Linked DNA regions of Homo sapiens: region 1 is linked to region 2. Evidence: fine-mapped expression QTL. A gene starts in region 2. The other region holds a variant in brackets. All regions are shown on one strand. Distances are from middle to middle.

Region 1 (4,000 bases), 20 kb after region 2:
CCAGGCCTACAAGCCGGGTAAGAGAGGCCCCATGTGCTTTGCAGTTTTAATAGAGTTTGGGGTTAAACATGGGGAAGCCTTTTTGGGCTATCCCATACCTGGCCACTAGAACAAACTCTCCAAGCTGGTGATGGAAACATCCCCTTAGAGCTCTTTAAAAATAGGCTGGGCGCGGTGGCTCACACCTGTAACCCCAGCACTTTGGGAGGCCGAGGCGGGCAGATCACCTGAGGTCGGGAGTTCGAGACCAGCCTGACCAACATGGAGAAACCCCGTCTCTACTAAAAATACAAAATTAGCCAGGTGTGGTGGTGCATGCCTGTAATCCCAGCTACTCGGGAGGTTGAGGCAGGAGAATGGCTTGAACCCAGGAGGTGGAGGTTGCAGCGAGCCAAGATCACACCATTGCACTCCAGCCTGGGCAACAAGAGCAAAACTCTGTCTCAAAAAAACAAACAAAAAAAAATCAGGGTCTCACCCACCTTCCTAAAGCGATTTCACATTTCCGGCCCTGAGTCTGAAGGCCTCGGGAAGGATCGGCACTCTGGGAGGTGCAGCCCCAGGCGGTTCAGTGAGGTTCTGGTTGTTTCTGTGTCTCTGCTTGCAGGTGCACTGACGTTCCTCCTGTCCATGGGGAGAAATGACGGTGTGGGCCAAATCAGTGGCTTCTATGTGGGCCGGCTCATGGTTCGGCTGACCAAGAGCCGGGACCTGTTCGTCTCTACGAGCTGGAAAACCATGAGGCAGTCTCCACCTTGATGGAGAGGCCAGGCGGGAGAACTACCGCAGCAGGTGGGCGTACGGACTGCTTGGCGCATGGCACCCGCCTGGCAAGTGCTAGAACTAATGCTATTCTTCTGGAATAAGATGCCAATGATGTGGTGGCTAGAAATGCAACTTGTATAAAACAAAAATGGGAGAGAGAGAGGTATTAAACAAATACCCCCCTTAGAGGATACTTTCTGGGTTTGGAAGGTGTGCTTGCTGTGGTACTGGGTGAGCGGCTCATGTGTGCTGGCTGCATGGTGCTGGGGAGGCCACAGCCAGCCCTTCCTCTGCACCTGCCTCCTCTGGGATGTGCATGTGTGTGTACGTGCTTGTGGTCATGACGCGTGCCATTTAGAGCTCTCAGAGCAGGGCAGATTGCTGGGCTCTGGTGGCCAGTGTCTGTCTGTGAGGGCAGGAAGGAGAGCTGCACATTGAGAACAAAGGAGGGACCTGAGGTGGAGAGAGGCCCAGCACCCCAAATCTCTGCCATCACACGGTCGGGGAGCCCATACATTCTGCAACAACCAGGGACTTCACAGGAGCCTTGTTTTCAATTTGCTAACAGGTGCATAATCCCTGTGCTCCTTAAGCCTCATGGCCTTCCTACATTTCCACTTTATTTGTTTGTTTGTTTATTTATTTTTGAGACAGTCTCGCCCTGTCACCCAGGCTGGAGTGCAGTGGCACGATCTCAGCTCACTGCAACCTACGCCTTCTGGGTTCACGTGATTCTCTTGCCTTAGCCTCCCAAGTAGCTGGGACTACAGGCACGTGCCACCATGCCTGGCTAATTTTTGTATTTTTTAAATAGAGACGGGGTTTCACTGTGTTGGCCAGGCTGGTCTCGAACACCTGACCTCAGGTGATCCATTCGTCTTGGCCTCTCGAAGTGCTGGGATTCCAGGCGTGAGCCACTGCGGCCAGCACATTTCCACTTTTAGATCCTACTCCATACCACAGGTTTCATTTAAGAAGAAAGAGCTAGATAAATGTGCTCTTCTGGTTACCCCACCCTGACAGAGTGCATTTTTACACGGCTAGCAGGGGTTGAGACTGCAGCCTGGCCTGCCAGCCATTGGAGGTGTTTAAGGAAGGGCAGATAATGTGACTCTTTGCGGGGTGCCATCTGCTTACCCATTAGCGAGCAGAGGGGGTTTCTGCGGGTGACCCCCAGCATATTTCTAGGTTACTTATGGGCAGATTTGTAAGTGACAAAACTCCAGCTGATGCTGGGAATGGGGAGAGGGCCCTTGAGGGACTTTGTGGTTTTGTGCTTCTGGTTTCCTGGCCAACCCCAGGGTCACTTGTCTGGAGGCCCAGCTGGGCACTAATGTCTGCCACCGACTATGTTACAGTGTATAAATGATTCCTCTATTTGGGAGAGATCTTCCAATCCAGAGGAGCCCCTCTTGGACTGCCTGGGTTAAATCTGCATAGCAGAAGTGGTTGATGAGTTCATCTGAAGAAATTCAGGCCCCACCTCCCCACCCTGCCCCTCCCTGCTCCCTTTTGATGGTGGC[C/T]TCTGGGTACTCGGGCAGAGTCCTTGGGACACCAGCCTCTCTGGGGTTCTCAGGCCATCCCGTTGGGGCTGTCGCCCAGGCCTAAGTGAGTCGTGTGCCTCTATTGGAGGATGGCTGTTCCCCTGGTGGTTGCATCCAAGTATCTGTCTTTCTTTATGGACCACGAAGGGAAGCCCACCTTCCTGGAGGCAGGACCTTCGGCCTAAGAAACACAGGCCCTGGTGCTATCTGACCTGGGGTCCAGCGAGGTGGGAATCCCAGTGTGTGAGCGACAGGCCTTCTTCTATTGACTTACAATATTCTAGAAGGACCTACGTGTGGGGACACAGTTTTCCAAACTGAGGAAAATGTTGCAATAAAAGAATATGTTGTAAGAAAGACACTGGATCTTTTATTTTTTTCCTTTCATTTTCTTTTTCTTAAAAAAACAAAATGAAACCAAAAAAAAGCCTGAATCAAAACCTTTTTAGGAGTAGTTACAGATATTATAGGGATGGGGGCGGGGGGCACTAAAACAAAAGAGAAAAGCACCAGTGAGATGTCTTTCCCATTTTCTTCTCTCCGCCACGGAACACGCACACCAACAGAGCCCAGGCCACTTTTTGCCCTCTTCCCTTGGAAAAAGGAGGAACAGAAGATTTAAGAATTTTGAAAGGATTTTTTTCTTGTGTGAATGTGTGTAAAAGTCAATGCTATAAATCTAAAACGAGGTCTGTTTTTTTAAAAAAGTTCTAAAACAACAGGAGGAAAACACATGGAAAGAAACCCCTCGCGGAGACCTGCTTCCTTACAGATGGAGGCTCTTTTGGAGGAGAGTGTGAAGGGCAGAGGGCTCCCTGCGCCGGCAGGACCTGCCCGGCCACCCTCCACTCCCCTGCCATCACCCCTCCTCTCTCCTTTTAAAAAGCAAAACCCCACTCTTGGGACTCGGGTCGTCCTCCGATCCCTGCTGGAAAGTGCGGCGGCTACTTGGCGTCGAGCTTGGCCATCTCCTGCACGTAGATGCCGATGCTCTCGCTGTCGAAGAGCAGGAAGTACACGTTCTTCAGCGAGGACGCGCTCGAGTCATCAAAGTGGGCTGAGATGGCTTTGAGGGTCACCTGGGCCGCAGTCTGTTTGGGAAAGCAGTTTCTGTGCCAAAGCAAAAGAAGAGCCGATGTCATTTTGGTCCCTGGGACCCATGGGAGCATGAAGTGCCTTTGTTTTTACTGGGTGGGGCCTTGCTGTGTGCAGGGCTAGTCCATGCATGATCTCCTTTGACCCTAGCCAAAGGGACAGCCTGGGGGTGGCAGGTGGGGCATGTTGCCCCCACTTTATAGGTGTCACACTGACTCGGAGAGGCACAATGATTTAATTTGATTAAATTAATTTATTTGTTTTGGGATGGAGTCTCTCTCTGTTGCCCAGGCTGGAGTGCAGTGGCGCGATCTCAGCTCACTGCAACCTCCACCTCCCGGGTTCAAGCGATTCTCCTGCCTCAGCATCCCAAGCAGCTGGGACTACAAGTGCGCACCATCATGCCTGGCTAATTTTTGTATTTTTAGTAGAGACGGGGTTTCACCATGTTGGCTAGGCTGGTCTTGAACTCCTGACCTCAGGTGATCCGCCTGCCTCGGCCTCCCAAAGTGCTGGGATTACAGGTGTGAGCCACCGTGCCCTGCCAAGCACAATGATTTTAGTCAAGGTCACAGGGCTGGCCAAGTGAAGAGTGC
Region 2 (4,512 bases):
AAAAAAAAAAGTTTTTCATGGTTTGGGACAGGTCCTTAGAGATGGGCCACACCAGCCCTGGCACACCTGAGCCCAGTGTTGGGCCACCTCACACCTCTCTCGCCTCTCTTCCAGCTTTATCTTTGTCCTGCTCTTTCTGGAGTCCTTTCCTTGCATCCTGCCAGCTGGCATCCCCTTCATCCTTGCACGCCTACCTTCTACACAAAGCCTTCCATGACCATCCCAAGCCTCAGGGCTGATTCCGTGCAGTGGGCAGGCTGTAGCCTCTCTGTTCACCTCTCTGTGTCACATCTTACTGGGTACATGCCCAGTAAATTCCCCACAACTGAGATTCTGCTTTGCCTGAGCAGTGCCCTCTGGCTCCTTAGGGATGATGCTTGCTGAGGGGTTTCCTGGCTTTAAGGTCATGGTTCAGGCTGGGCTCAGTGGCTCACACCTGTAATCCCAGCACTTTGGGAGGCCGAGGTGGGCAGATCACTTGAGGCCAGGAGTTTGAGACTAGCCTGGCCAACATGGTGAAACCCCGTTTCTACTATAGCCGGGTGTGGTGGCAGGTGCCTGTAATTCCAGCTGCTTGGGAGGCTGAGGCATGAGAATCGCTTGAGCCTGGAAGGTGGAGGCTTCAGTGAGCCGAGAGCATGCCACTGCACTCCAGCCTAAGCGACAGAGCCAGATTCGTCCCCCTACCCCCCAAAAAGGGGTCATGGTTCAGACCTCCATTGTAGGCCCACCCCCTTGCTTTACTAGCTGAGGGACCTTGCCTAAATTCTTTAGCCTCTAGGAGCCTAAATTTCCTTATCTGCAAAATGGAGATTAATAAAACTTACCTTGCAGGACCTTTGTGAAAAAAACAAAAACAAACAAAAAAACTTGAGAAGTCATTCAAAGCACTTAGTTCGTGATCAATAAATATTAGCTTATTGTTTTTCTAAGACGATGAGTAGGATTTTTCATCAAAAATAAATCATTCTGGTTGCCTTGGGCAAAATAATCTGCAATATAAAATATCTATAATAAATGGCTGCTGTGTATTCATTGCTACTGTGTGCCAGGCACCATGTTAAAACACTTTATAAAAATGATCTCATTGAGGCCTTTCCACAACTCTTTTTTTCTTTTTTTAGAGATGGAGTTTCGCTCTTGTTGCCCAGGCTGGAGTGCAATGGCATGACCTCCGCTCACTGCAACCTCTGCCTTCCTGGTTCAAGTGAATCTCCTGCCTCAGCCTCCTGAGTAGTTGGGACTACAGGCATGTGCCACCATGCCAGGCTAATTTTTTGTAGAGACAGTGTTTTACCATGTTTGCCAGGCTGGTCTCGAACTCCTGACCTCAGGTGATCCACCCACCTCGGCCTCCCAAAGTGCTCGGATTACAGACGTGAGCCACCGTGCCTGGCCCTTATCCACAACTCTTAAAGTAGGTGCTAATATTTGCAGTAAGTAGATGGAGATGGCTTATCTTTCGCTGAGTTAGCTTGGTCTGATTTGAGCTGGCAATACACTGCCTTCCAGGTCATTGTCCTGCCTGTGGGTCTTTGCACATCCAGACCACACTTCCTTCCTCTTTACCTAAATCTACCTCTTTCTCATCCTTGGAGAGAAGTATTTGCACCCTTCCTTTGCCCTCAGTCTTTCTTTTTTATTTTTTCATTTCATTTCATTTATTATTATTATTATTATTATTTTTTTTTTGAGACAGAATCTCACAGTCACCTAGGCTGGAGTGCAGTGGAATGATCATGGTTCACTGTAGCCTCAAACTCCTGGGCTCAAGCAATCCTCCCACCTCAGCTTCCCGAGAAGCTGGGACTACAGGTGTGCACCAACAAGCCCGGCTAATTTTTGTAGGTCTCGCTATGTTGCCCAGGCTGGTCTCCAACTCCTGGGCTCAAACGATCCTCCCGCCTTGGCCTCCCTAAGTGCTGGGACTGTAGGCATGAGCCACCGTGCCTGGCCATGCCCAATCTTTCTTACTGCAGTTGGTGATACATGGTTTTTGTTTTCTCTATACATGTATTTTTTGGTGGTGTGTTTAATATCTGTCTTTTCCCAGACTGTCGCCTCCGTGAAAGCAGGAACCTTGTCAGTTTTCTCTCCAAGTTATCCCTCCAACGCCTAGCACAGTGCCTGGCAAATGTAGGAGCTCAACAGGGTTTGCGGAATTATTATGTGTATGTCTGAAGGAAGGATGTTGGCAGTGCGCCCAACGTGTGAGGGGAACCCCACTCTCCAAGGTTCCAGTGGCTTTAAAGGTGTCCTCGAGAAAATCAGAGGAACAGGGGGATGCTTGTTTTCCTTCCTTCCTTCTCTCTCTCTCTCTCTCTCTCTCTCTCTCTCTCTCTCTCTCTCTCTCTCTCTCTCTCTTTTTTGCTTTAAAGTATGCTGAAAGGACACTTTAAACCAAGTCTGAATGGCTCGGCAGGACTGGGGCGCGGGTGCTGGCAGGAGCCGGAGAGGCGACATCTGGCCATGGGAGCATTTGTTTCAAAGTTCAAGGCCGTTCGCTCAGGGTCAAGGTTAGTCCGGCGGGCCGTTCGGAGACCAGCCCCAGCGTGCCAGGACCGTTTCCGGGGCCTGGCCGGGGCGTTGCCGCGGGGTCGGGGACCAGCACGAGTGCTGAGTCACGCCCCGCCCGGGAGCGCCTCGGGTCAGTAACTCGGGAAGACGACCAAGCGGGAGCGGGAGCGGGAGCGGGAGCCGGAGCGAGAGCGCGCGGGCGCGGCCGACAGGTGAGATCGCGCCGCCAGGCGGGCTCTCGAGACCCCGGGCGCCCCGGGCGGGACCGGGACCCGGAAGAGGGGCGAGCGGATTAGAGGCCTGGCTCACGCCGCGTCTGGCGTGGGGAGGTCGGTGCGCGCAGTTGTGGCGCTGCGAGGAGAGGGATACTCGACTCAGGCCCGCCCCTCTCTGTCTCCCCCAAAAAACGCAACAGGGAGATGTGCTCCTGGCCGAGGGCAAAGAAAACTCCACCCTCCTGGTTTGGCCCCTAAATCCCTGCTAAGTTTTCCTAAGGAAGATGGGCTTAGGCCGGGAAGGGCGAACCGGGGAAGAGGGAACACGGGGCGGGTGTAACCCGGATCTTGCGAGGACCGTCCGAGGGTCCGCTGGGTAGAAGCGGCCGGTCCGGACAGAAGCAGGTGTGAGAGGAAAGGGAGAAACCTCAGTCTCTAAGAGGAAAGAAACTGGAGTCAACCCAGTGCCCATAGGCTCGGGGGAGCTGGGGGGTGCAGCACTAGGAAGTCTGCTTCTCCCTTCCCGAAGCCCTGGGTGCTGCAGGGACAAAGACCAGCGGTGAGTAAACTAACTCTGATGGGACGCGTGCAGTCCACCTGGAACTGAATTAGTGGCCTATATTGGGGCTCTCCTTCCAACACCACCTGATCAACACACCCTACCTTTCCCTACAAGGAGAGTCTTTTTGACCCTGGAATTTAAGGTGAGGATGGGGAGTGGTGAGGTCTCTTGGGGGCTGATGATCCTGTAGGAGGACAGGCATAGGGCAGAGAGTCAGATATAGTTTGGGATGGGACTTGCAGGTTTCTGGACTGTGCACCTGTGTTCAAAAGCCTGTATCAGGTTCCAGTGTGCGTGCATGCACCTGCCAGAGAGCCCCGGGATCTCAGATCACACCTGCCCTCACCCCAGCACCTAGAGAGGAGTTCTCCAAGGAGCACAGTGTGTCACCAAGAAGAGGGCACTGAGCCCCAGCCAGGGTGGGCTGGGCAGGCTTAGCACTACCTAGCCCAGAAGTGATGGGCTGGGCAGGCCGGTGGACTCCAGGGCCAGCCTGACTTTTGTCTGGTGGCCAAATGAAGCCAGCGTCCAGGTACAGGTGGTGGGCAGACCATGGGGACCACAAAACTGGCTCTGAGGAGGATGGACAAATTGCTTGGCCTAGGTTTTCTGTGCGGGAGTGAATATGACATCCAGATGAACCTGTCTGCCCCAGAGCTGCCCTCCCCTGGGGATAAAAGGAGGCTGCCTCCCTTAGACTTTGAGTCCCTTTTCAGAAACTGGTCTTTTGGGGGTTCTGTTCTTCAAGTAGTCCCTGAGGGGCTGGCCATGGAGTGTCCCAGGAAGGGAGGCCGCCCAACCGTCTCCATCCTGCTGTGTCCCGCAGGTGGAGGAAACCTCCATGGTGCTGTGAGTCGTGCTGTAGTGGCCTTCTTATCCGGGACGGCCACTCTGGGAATGTGGCTCTCCAGAGGCTGATGTTGAAACCTACCCTTTGTGTGAGCCATGACGACTCAAAAAGCATCGTGTTTTATTTGTAATATTTGTGAAGCAATACTGGAGCAACTCTGGGATGACATTCTTGCTTTGATCAGAGCCCACACGGTTCCTGCTGTGTGTCTTCTGAGGCACAACCTCTGAACAGCTTTGGCATAAATGTAACTTCCTGGTTTTTCAGTAGTCCTATGGGCTGCTTATTGTGGAATAATACCCTTGAGATCAGGGTGGATGCTCTTGGCAGAGAAAACAGGATTGACTGAGCAAATTTTTGTGTAAATC

The links. PIP is the estimated chance that this variant, and not a neighbour inherited with it, causes the effect. A credible set is the group of variants that fine-mapping cannot tell apart.
Region 1: its variant is the best candidate, but not a certain one, in a credible set for the expression of AIFM2 in monocytes after interferon gamma (Fairfax 2014, PIP 0.54).

What each region holds. Positions count from the first base shown.
Region 1 is chr10:70,110,937-70,114,936 of GRCh38, reverse strand. MACROH2A2 (macroH2A.2 histone) reads right to left here. Exons shown (of 9, transcript NM_018649.3): 9 at 2,655-3,419. The coding sequence ends at 3,254. It overlaps AIFM2 (AIF family member 2), which reads left to right. Exons shown (of 9, transcript NM_032797.6): 8 at 1-17; 9 at 608-2,666. The coding sequence ends at 759. Among named protein-coding and RNA genes, the nearest start is that of AIFM2, 20 kb to the left of the region's middle. The variant C/T (reference allele first, on the strand shown) is at 2,289.
Region 2 is chr10:70,130,951-70,135,462 of GRCh38, reverse strand. AIFM2 (AIF family member 2) reads left to right here and starts at 2,638. Exons shown (of 9, transcript NM_032797.6): 1 at 2,638-2,729. RefSeq lists silencers at 2,464-2,783, 2,616-2,825 and an enhancer at 2,347-2,847.